Linked DNA regions of Homo sapiens: region 2 is linked to region 1. The links come from fine-mapping of genetic effects on gene expression. A gene starts in region 1. The other region holds a variant in brackets. All regions are shown on one strand. Distances are between the middles of the regions.

Region 1 (4,385 bases):
CCCAGGGTGAGGGGCTCTAGAAAAGCTGGGACTAAGGGCCCTGACTAGGACGTTACGGGAAGGGGGTCTTGAATTCTGATCTCGTTTCTGCCTAAGACCTATCGCCTTTTTGAACCTCAGTTTCCCCTTTGGCTGCATAGGGAAGGGGTGCCCACATGCCCCCGCCCGCATTCAGTTCGAAGGACCAGCCAGTAGGCCCTGCGCCGCCCAGGGACCGCCCGGCCTTTGCGTCCGGCCCAGCTCAAGCCCCTTCCGCCGCGCGCGGCCTCGGGAGCGCTGGGCAGGCAGCCCGGGTGGGAGCGCCCACGTCTCCCGCGGACACGGACGGACGGATGGACGGGCGGCCGCGCAGGCCCGCGCCCCGCTCCCGCCCCGCCTGCCGCGCCTCCCGGGGCGCCCGCATTAAAGCGCATATGCAAGCCATGAATTATCAACTGAAAGGAGTCAATTACCGGCTCTAAAAACGAGTGTCTGCGCTCGCAGCGCCCCGGGCCATCCGCCTATTTACGGAGCGATCTACCCCGCCCGGCTGGGGAGGGGGCCTCGGGAGGGAGAGAGACGGAGAAACGGAGCCCGAGACCGGGAGAGAGCCGGAGAGGCAGGGACTGGAGAGTCTGGGACACGAAGGAGAGGCGGGGAGAGACCGAGATTCAGCGAGACGCGCGGAGGGCCGGACGGGAGCCAAGGCGGCTCAGTTCCTCTTCTCCCCCGAGCAGGCGAGGAGAGGTGGGGTCTCAGGACCTCCAAGGCCCTGTTCCCCTTCCATTGGCATTTGTGTAAGGACGCAGGCCCTCCGCACTGCTGACTGTGGCACTGGGCAGGGAGTCCCCTAGACTAGGGGTTTGGGGTTAGATCTGGGGCTCAGGCAGCGCTGGGCTGGGCGTAGTTTGCAGAGGGACCGGCCGTCCTGGCAGGAAACTGGGGAGGAGGCCGCGGCTTTGTCCAGGGTGGAGGTAAGAACGATGGTTGGACAGCATGACCACGAGTAAAGGGAGGAGGGCTTGAGGATAGGGACAAAGTGATGTGGAGCTTATGTAGGAGATGATGCGCAGCCTTTCAGCATTGAGAGAGAAACCGGGAGACCAGCCAGCCTCAGTGGGCCCAGGAAGTCCTGCTTCCTCCCCACCCGCTCAAGCTGTTCCCTCCTCTGGAAATGCTTTTCCTGCCTTCCCTCTACTCATTCTGTGATTCCTGCCCTCCCCAGCCTCTGTGCTACCTTAGCCTCAACACAATACACTCATTATTATTATTATTATTAGTGACAGGGCCTCACTCTGTCACCCAGGCTGGAGTGCAGTAGTGCAATCATAGCTCACTGCTGCCCTAACCTCCTGGGCTAAAGTGATCCTCCCACCTCTGTCTCCCAAGTAGCTGGGACTGTAGGCACATGCCACCATGCCCTCCTAATTTTTTAAATTTTTTGTAGACATGGGTCTTGCTGTGTTGTCCAGCCTGGTCTGGAACTCCTGGCCTCAAGCAACCCTCCCACCTCAACCTCCCAGTGTTGGGATTACAGGCATGAGTCCCACGATACCTGGCAACACACCCCATTCAATTCCATGATCCAGACCTGACTTTACCATAGGGCCAGACCTTGTCCATGTTGCTCAGTATTGTGCCCTTGGAAGAAGGTCCTTGAATGTTTCCTGAAAAAATGAATGAAGGAGTAAGCTGAGCTGGAGGACACATTGGCCTGGACAGAGGCTGTGACAAAGATGGCAGGGCTGGTGAGCCCAGATATGGGCCTCCCATACAGATCAGATGGAAGGCTTTAGGCAACCACAGTACTGGGGTGAGGTCACAGAAGCTGAGTCCAGCCCTTGCTTGGGGAGACGGGTACAGGAAGTAGCAGGGGCAGGGAGGGAAGGGGTAGATGGAGAGTTGTCATCAGCACCAGCAAGTCACCGCAAGAGCCCCGGGGCTTTGATTTGAATGCTTCACGGCCCCTGAAATCCTAGGTCTCTTCTGGGGGAAGAGGTTCAGGGAACCCCCAGTGACTTTGAGGAAGGAATGGGGCCTACACTGGGGCAGTGAGAAGATTCTCATCTTGGGAATCAAACAGAGCCTTTCTCTTCTAGCTGTGGGATCCCAGGCAAGCCTCAACTTCTGAGCCTCAGGTTCCTCATCTATGAAATGTTGCTGGCCAGGGGAGGTGCCTCACGCCTGTAATCCTGGCACTTTTGAGCTCAGGAGCAACAGACTTTGTCTCTATAAAAAAAACTAGCTGGGCGTGGTGGTTCATGCCTGTGGTCCCAGCTACTCAGGAGGCTGAGGTGCCATTTTTGAGGCTACAAAATACCAAGCACTATGATAATGGATTATCTCTCTACTCTTCACAACAGCTTCTTTCTAAGATTGCTAAGTCATTTTGCAAACAAGGAAATTCTAAGACAGGCAGGGATTGGGAAATGGCAGATAAAGTTTTGAAGCCAGTTCTTACTCCAGAGTCTCTTTAACCTGTGCACCATGAAGCCTCCTAGACCTGGTCCATATACCCCCTGCCCTGTTCCCTCAGCCCTTCCAGCCTGGCTGAGTCCAGACTGGGGGAAGTGGGGGCTGCACAGCAGGCAGGGCAGCTCAGGTCCAGCAGAGGTGGCCCCTGGGGTCTTGTTCCTGCCATGGCGTGGGGTGGGCGTCTGTCCAGCTTGATGAGTCTCCAGCCCCGCCATGCCATTAGCGGGCAGCCAGAGGGGGTGTCTGCAATCGCCAACACTGGGGTTCCCACTGCTGCTTGCCTATTAGTGGCTGGTGGCTTCATGGTGATTTATTGGGGCTTCTTCATTTCCCCTTGGTCCGCTATAAACATATTTATACCACCAGAGTGACCGATAAATTTCCCTTATGAATCCTGTTATCTCCCCTATTAACCATCCGTCACCTTTTATGTGGCCACAGTGGGCCAGGCCAGGGCACCAGGGCTGGGTGGGAGGCCTGCAGCCCACAGCCCCGGAGCCCAGTGAACTCTTCACCTCCCCCACTGCTCCCCAGACAGGGCAGCTGCTGCCTCCTCGGAGCTGCCTCTAGGATAAGGATATGGTCCTGGGAACAGACTGAACTTACGCGGGGCCTTTGAAATGTGGCTTCCTCCAGGGTCTCAGTATGGGAAGTCCCTCTCAGGGTTAACCTGAGTCTCTCCTACTGTAGCTCAGCCTTCATCTCTTCTAAGTGATCAGGAGCCTCCTGAAGCTGCTACTGCTGCTGCTCTTCCTTCTCTCCCCACCCTCAGCTCTCATCCTTATCCTCTAAGTGCAGCAGAAAACTGAGACACAGTTAGATGTAGCATGGGGTTGGGGGGAGATGGCAGCTGGCATTTGCTGAGCATCTCCTCTATGCCAGTCACTTTGCATTCATGACTTCATGTGATCGTCACACAATCCTAGACCCAGGCATTTATGGCTTCATTTGCCAGATGAGGATGAGGAAATAAGGCTCAGAGACATTAAATGAAGAGCCCAAGATCACCCAGCCAAAGGGCAGAGCTGTGATTTGGGGCTTTTCTGGCCCCAAAGCTGGTGCTTTCAACCACTGCACTATACAGCCTCTTTGAATGCTCTTGGCTGGGAGAGGTTAATCAAAGAAAGTTTTCCAGAGTGCTATGGAGCAGGAGAGGGAAGTAAAGAGAGGGGAGGAGAGGGGGCCCCCTGTGGAAGGCTGATCGGGAGAAGTGGGCAGGGATGTGGAGTAGGGAGTAACCTCTTTTGCTTTCCAGTCAGGGAAACTTGGACAACTGTTCAGTCAGGCCCCATGTTGCTGGGAGTAGGGGGTAAGGTCTCTAAGAGCTGGAAGCCACCTGTATTGCCAGAGCCTGGGCTAGAGGACTAGGGCCTGGCTCAGACCTCCTCAGCTGTATGCTTGGGACAGAGCACCCCTCATATTTAGGACTCAACCTTCTCCTGCACCTGGGCTTGGAGGATTCTACCTCTTGACTACTTGATATACCAGCTTCCTTGGGAGATGGCTGGGTGTGTATATATATTGGGATGCCTGGGAGTCTTGTTTCCTTTAACATCACCCACAAAATCGGCCACAACTACTGACAACTCCTCTGGAGTTAAGATGACCCCCATGGTCCAATGAAGAATTCTGAGACTTGAGGAGACTGAGGTCTACCCTCTGAGTCCTGGCATTGCTTCTCCAGCTCCAGGATGATGGGCATAGAAAGGCATTGTTATTCCCATTTTACAGATGAGGCAACTGAGGCCCAGAAAGGGAGGAGATCTTAACAAAGAATGGAGTCCCAGGGCAAGGGATGGTGACTGGGGTGGGGTGGGGACTCAGCAGCATGAGAGACAAGAGGAAGCAGAGTGGGGCTGGGGGTGGAGTATCGTCTGTGGGCCTGGGTGGCCATGGGTGGAGGTGAGGGGCTCAGCATTCTGGAGGATGTC
Region 2 (4,385 bases), 51 kb before region 1:
GAACAAAATGGAATTTCTTATGTCTACTTCTTTTTACATAGACACAGTAACAGTCTGATCTCTCTTTTCCCCACACATGTGTTGCGGTTTTGGCTGGCTGTAATGTATGAATTTACTCCAAACCATCCCTGGGGCCAAGATATCTCATATTTATTTAGTAAGATAAAAAATATATCTGGTTCCAGCCTCCACTCACCAAGCTGGCTGAAAAGTCCACCATCAGTCAGTTTTTAGGGTTTCTTCCTTCCAGAGTGAGAGGGCCCTGGTGGTCAACCCAAATTGGCCATCTCCCCTACACAAGCACAGGTTCTTCACTGTCTAGTTGCCCTCTCTGGCTGGGCGCTGGAGGTCCTCCTTAGAGATCCTCCTGTTTATCCCTGGCTCTGTGCAGCCAGCTGAGTTCTGCCAGCTCCAAGAGCAGCGTGGGCAGCACTAGCAGGGATCTGCTCACAGCTCTTGCCTGCAGAACTCCCCTCCTGGTTGCAAGGAATCCACCTGGCTGGCAGGGGTGTGGGATGGTAGCAGGATGGGTCTTCCTGCACTTCGGCTCCAAACAGCAGCATCTATATGGTTTTCCTCTGGAGCAACTGCTCTTCATTATTTTTACGAACAGATTATTCCAGGACAGAAGTTTTGGCTCTGAAAGCTTGGCTCTTTCAGGAGGAGAAGCGGGAAATTACCTTTCAGGTTTCCAGTGATTGTGGTTTTGAGTAATCAGCAAAGGGGTGGGGTCCTGATTGACAATAGCTTTGTAGGCTTTGCGGGGGAGTAGGATTTTTTTTTGGTTTTTGTTATTTTTGTTTTTTGTTTTTGAGACGGAGTCTTGCTCTGTCGCCCAGGCTGGAGTGCAATGGTGCGATCTCGGCTTACTGCAACCTCTGCCTCCCAGGTTCAAGCGATTCTCCTGCCTCAGCCTCCCGAGTAGCTGGGATTACAGGCGCCTGCCACCATGCCTGGCTAATTTTTGCATTTTTAGTAGAGACGGGGCTTCACCATGTTGGCCATGGCTGGCCTCGACCTCCCGACCTCAGGTGATCCGCCCGCCTCGGCCTCCCAAAGTGCTGGGATTATAGGCATGAGCCACCGCGCCTGGCCAATGCCTGGCTAATTTCTGTAGTTTTAGTATAAACGGTTTCGTCATGTTGGCCAGGCTAGTCTTGAACTCTTTTTTTTTTTTTTTTTTTGAGATGAAGTCTCACTTTGTTGCCCCAGCTGGAGTGCACTGGTGCAATCTCGGCTCACTGCAACCTCCACCTCCCGGGTTCAAGCAATTCTCCTGCCTCAGCCTCCCTAGTAGCTGGGGTTACAGGTGCCTGCCACCATGCCCGGCTAATTTTTGTATTTTTTAGTAGAGATGGGATTTCACCATCTTGGCCAGGCTGGTCTTGAACTCCTGACCTCAGGTGATCCCCCTGCCTTGGCTTCCCAAAGTGTTGGGATAACAGGTGTGAGCCACCTCACCCGGCCAGGACGTGGGAGTTTTAGCTGAACCCAGCCCAGGCTTGGGAACAGCTCTTTCCCCCGCCTCTCCTCCCTTCTGCCTACAACTCCTAAGGCACCCTTCTGTTTGGCTCTGGAGTCCTTGAATGATGGGCAGGTAGGATCTGTGACTGTCTGGGCAACCTTTCTTCTGGGGCTCTTAGCCCAGCCCTGAATCACAAGGGGGCACCTGAGATAAGCAGGGCTCCAGCAGGCCCTGGGAGAACACAGCGATTTGTAGTAAAGCTCCTGTCTGATAGATTCTGGACAAAGCGATTTGGCAACCAAGATTCTTTTTTTTTTTTGAGTCAGAGTCTTGCTCTGTTGCCCAGGCTGGAGTGTAGTGGCTCAATCTTGGCTCACTGCAACCTCCGCCTCCCGGGTTCAAGTGATTCTCCTGCCTCAGCCTCCTGGAGTAGCTAGGACTACAGGTGCCTGCCACCACATCCAGCTAATTTTTGCATTTTTGGTAGAGACAGGGTTTCGCCATGTTGGCCAGGCTGGTCTCGAACTCCTGACCTCAGGTGATCCGCCTGCCTCGGCCTCCCAAAGTGCTGGGATTACAGGTGTGAGCCACCACTCCCGGATTCTT[G/A]GCTGTGTCCAAGGAGGACACAGCTGGATGAAGGGGTACCTAAACACCTTCTGAATTTTCACAAAATAGTTCACCTCTCTCTAAACTCTTGAGCAAATCTAGAGAAAAATGTGTTTCTGGTAATTCTGTTGACGCTTCACCCATTTTTTCCCACCCTGCCCCCTGAATAAGTTTTGATATCTTTTCTAGACCGAAGAGAAGGACCACCATCAATAGAATAGTATAGCTGGGAGAGACATCACAGAACACCTATTTATGCCCTTATGCCTTTGTACATGCAGTTTTGTTTTACCCTGAATGGTTTTTCCTACATCTCTTACAACCCGCTTATCAATCCCACTGGCATTGTGGTTCAGAAGGAGAAAACAAAACAGATGGAGGAGGGGCAATGCCTCCTAAGTGATTGGTAGAGTATCCCTCTCTTGAAAAATTGTGCATGCAGGTGGCCACAGGTTTAGATGTTACCTGTATACTATACTTCCCTGCATTCTCCGCAAAATCAGGTTTCCGCATGTTCACTGATTGGTCTTCTGGAGGTGCAGACTTACTTTGGTGTCTAGGAGAAAATGTCTCAGCTGCCTGACACTAGTTGAAGATTTAAAAATAGCTGTTAGCAGCTGTGTCATTAACTGTCAACAGGCAAGAACATAGGAAAGAATGAAAATGTGTGCTGAGCGTGGAGGGGAGCACATTGCTAGCTGCTAGCTGCCGTGCACAGGCACTCTGTGGGCGCCTTGTAGCGAGGTCGGGGGAGTTGGTGACCGGACTGTCAGGTGGCAGTTATTCCAGGGTGGTGAATGCTCTGCTGATTTCGATGTCCTTCTCCATACTCTTAGGCATTTTTTAAAATACAATGAACCTGTATTTATATAATGAAAACAAAAATAAAGCAAAATTTGATTTTCATTGTGAGATGGGAAAGGCAAGATGCAGTACTGTGTGTATAGTATGATTCCTTTGTGCAAAAAAGAATATATATAGACAACTGTTGACATGGTGGGTTTTTCATAAATATTTTCTTTTCCTGTAAGAGTACACCAGAAACTGTTAATTATAGTTTTCCTTTATAGAGGAGGGACTGTGCAAGGAGAACCAGGGGTGGAGGGAATGCTCACTTTTCATTTTGTATACCTTTAAAGAATATATCAAGAGGATTATCTAGTGTGTTTGGGGAGAAGTCTTGAACCCATTTTTTCTTCTTTGTAGCTCCTTGTGTTAGAAAAAAAATCCAAAGTAAGTACTCTATCAGTTCAATGAATTCAGGGAAGTGCTCCTGACACTGAGGACATCAGGGGGCAGAGGCTGTGGCATGTGCTCGGAGAGGGCAGGCGCCAGGCTCTGGGGTGTGGGGGGTGGGAGGGGGCAGTGGTGCCTGGGTGGGGAGAGGTGCACATGAGTCTGAGAGGACCACAGCTTGGAAGCACCTCCTGGAATATGCTCTGGAGCCTGTGGTGTGATGAGATGGGGATTTTAAGGGGAGAGGCAAGGCCAGGTTGGGTTTTGCACTGTCTGGCCCTAGTGGAAAGTGTGGGTTGGAGGTGCAGGACCTGGGCAGGGCAGCAGTTGGGTGGCCGCGTGTGACCTAGGAGACAAGGATGAGTCTGAGGCCCGGTGAGGGCCTTGGTAGAGGGGATGGAGAGGTGACCATTTTTCAGAGCTACTTAGCTTGGTGACTGGATGCAGGTGGTGGTGGGAAGGAGGAGCCAGAAAGACACCTGTTTCATTTCCTGAACACCTGGATGGATGGCGGGGCCTCCCCTGAGTACAGGGTACAGGATACATAAGGAGGAGCTGGTCAAAAGTCGGGCAGGTGATGAGCTTAGAGGAAGGACAGGGAAGGTGGACAGGTGACAGGAATAGCCCAGTGAGCTGGTTTGGGCTCCATTGCCTCGGGCTGGGTAGGGGATCTGGGGGATGTGGGATGAGTGGAGAGCCTGGAGTCAGAGGTGCTTAGGGGAGGAGTGGAAGCCAGGGTAGGGGAGGAGGGTAAGAGGGGAGGGGAGGAGGGGAAGGGTAGAGGGGAGAAGGGGAAGCAAGGGGAGGTGAGGAAGGGAAGGGGAGAAGGGAAAGGAAGGGGAGGGGAGGAAGGGAAGGGAAGGGTAGAGGGGGAGGAGGGGAAGCAAGGGGAGGGGAGGAAGGGAAGGGTAGAGGGGGAGGAGGGGAAGCCAGGGGAGGGGAGGAGGGAAAGGGTAGAGGGGAGGAGGGAAACCAGGGGAGGGGAGGAGGGGAAATTGGGGAGGGAAGAGGGGGAAGTGGGGAGGGGAGGAGGGGGAAGCAGGCCAGGGGAGGAGGGGGAGTAGGGGGAGGGGAGTAG

Direction of the effects. Positions count from the first base shown, and alleles are read on the strand shown. Sizes are in standard deviations (SD) of each study's normalised expression.
For the expression in thyroid of the gene that starts at base 1,752 in region 1, allele A in region 2 goes with a lower level than allele G (small effect, 0.28 SD a copy in GTEx).

Evidence for each region. PIP is the estimated chance that this variant, and not a neighbour inherited with it, causes the effect. A credible set is the group of variants that fine-mapping cannot tell apart.
Region 2: its variant is the best candidate, but not a certain one, in a credible set for the expression of LINC01398 in thyroid (GTEx, PIP 0.68).

What each region holds. Positions count from the first base shown.
Region 1 is chr1:46,447,953-46,452,337 of GRCh38, forward strand. LINC01398 (long intergenic non-protein coding RNA 1398) reads right to left here and starts at 1,752. Exons shown (of 3, transcript NR_121680.1): 1 at 1,535-1,752. RefSeq lists enhancers at 1-378, 379-892.
Region 2 is chr1:46,396,768-46,401,152 of GRCh38, forward strand. The region is part of intron 1 of FAAH (fatty acid amide hydrolase); the gene reads left to right. Among named protein-coding and RNA genes, the nearest start is that of FAAH, 4.6 kb to the left of the region's middle. The variant G/A (reference allele first, on the strand shown) is at 2,072.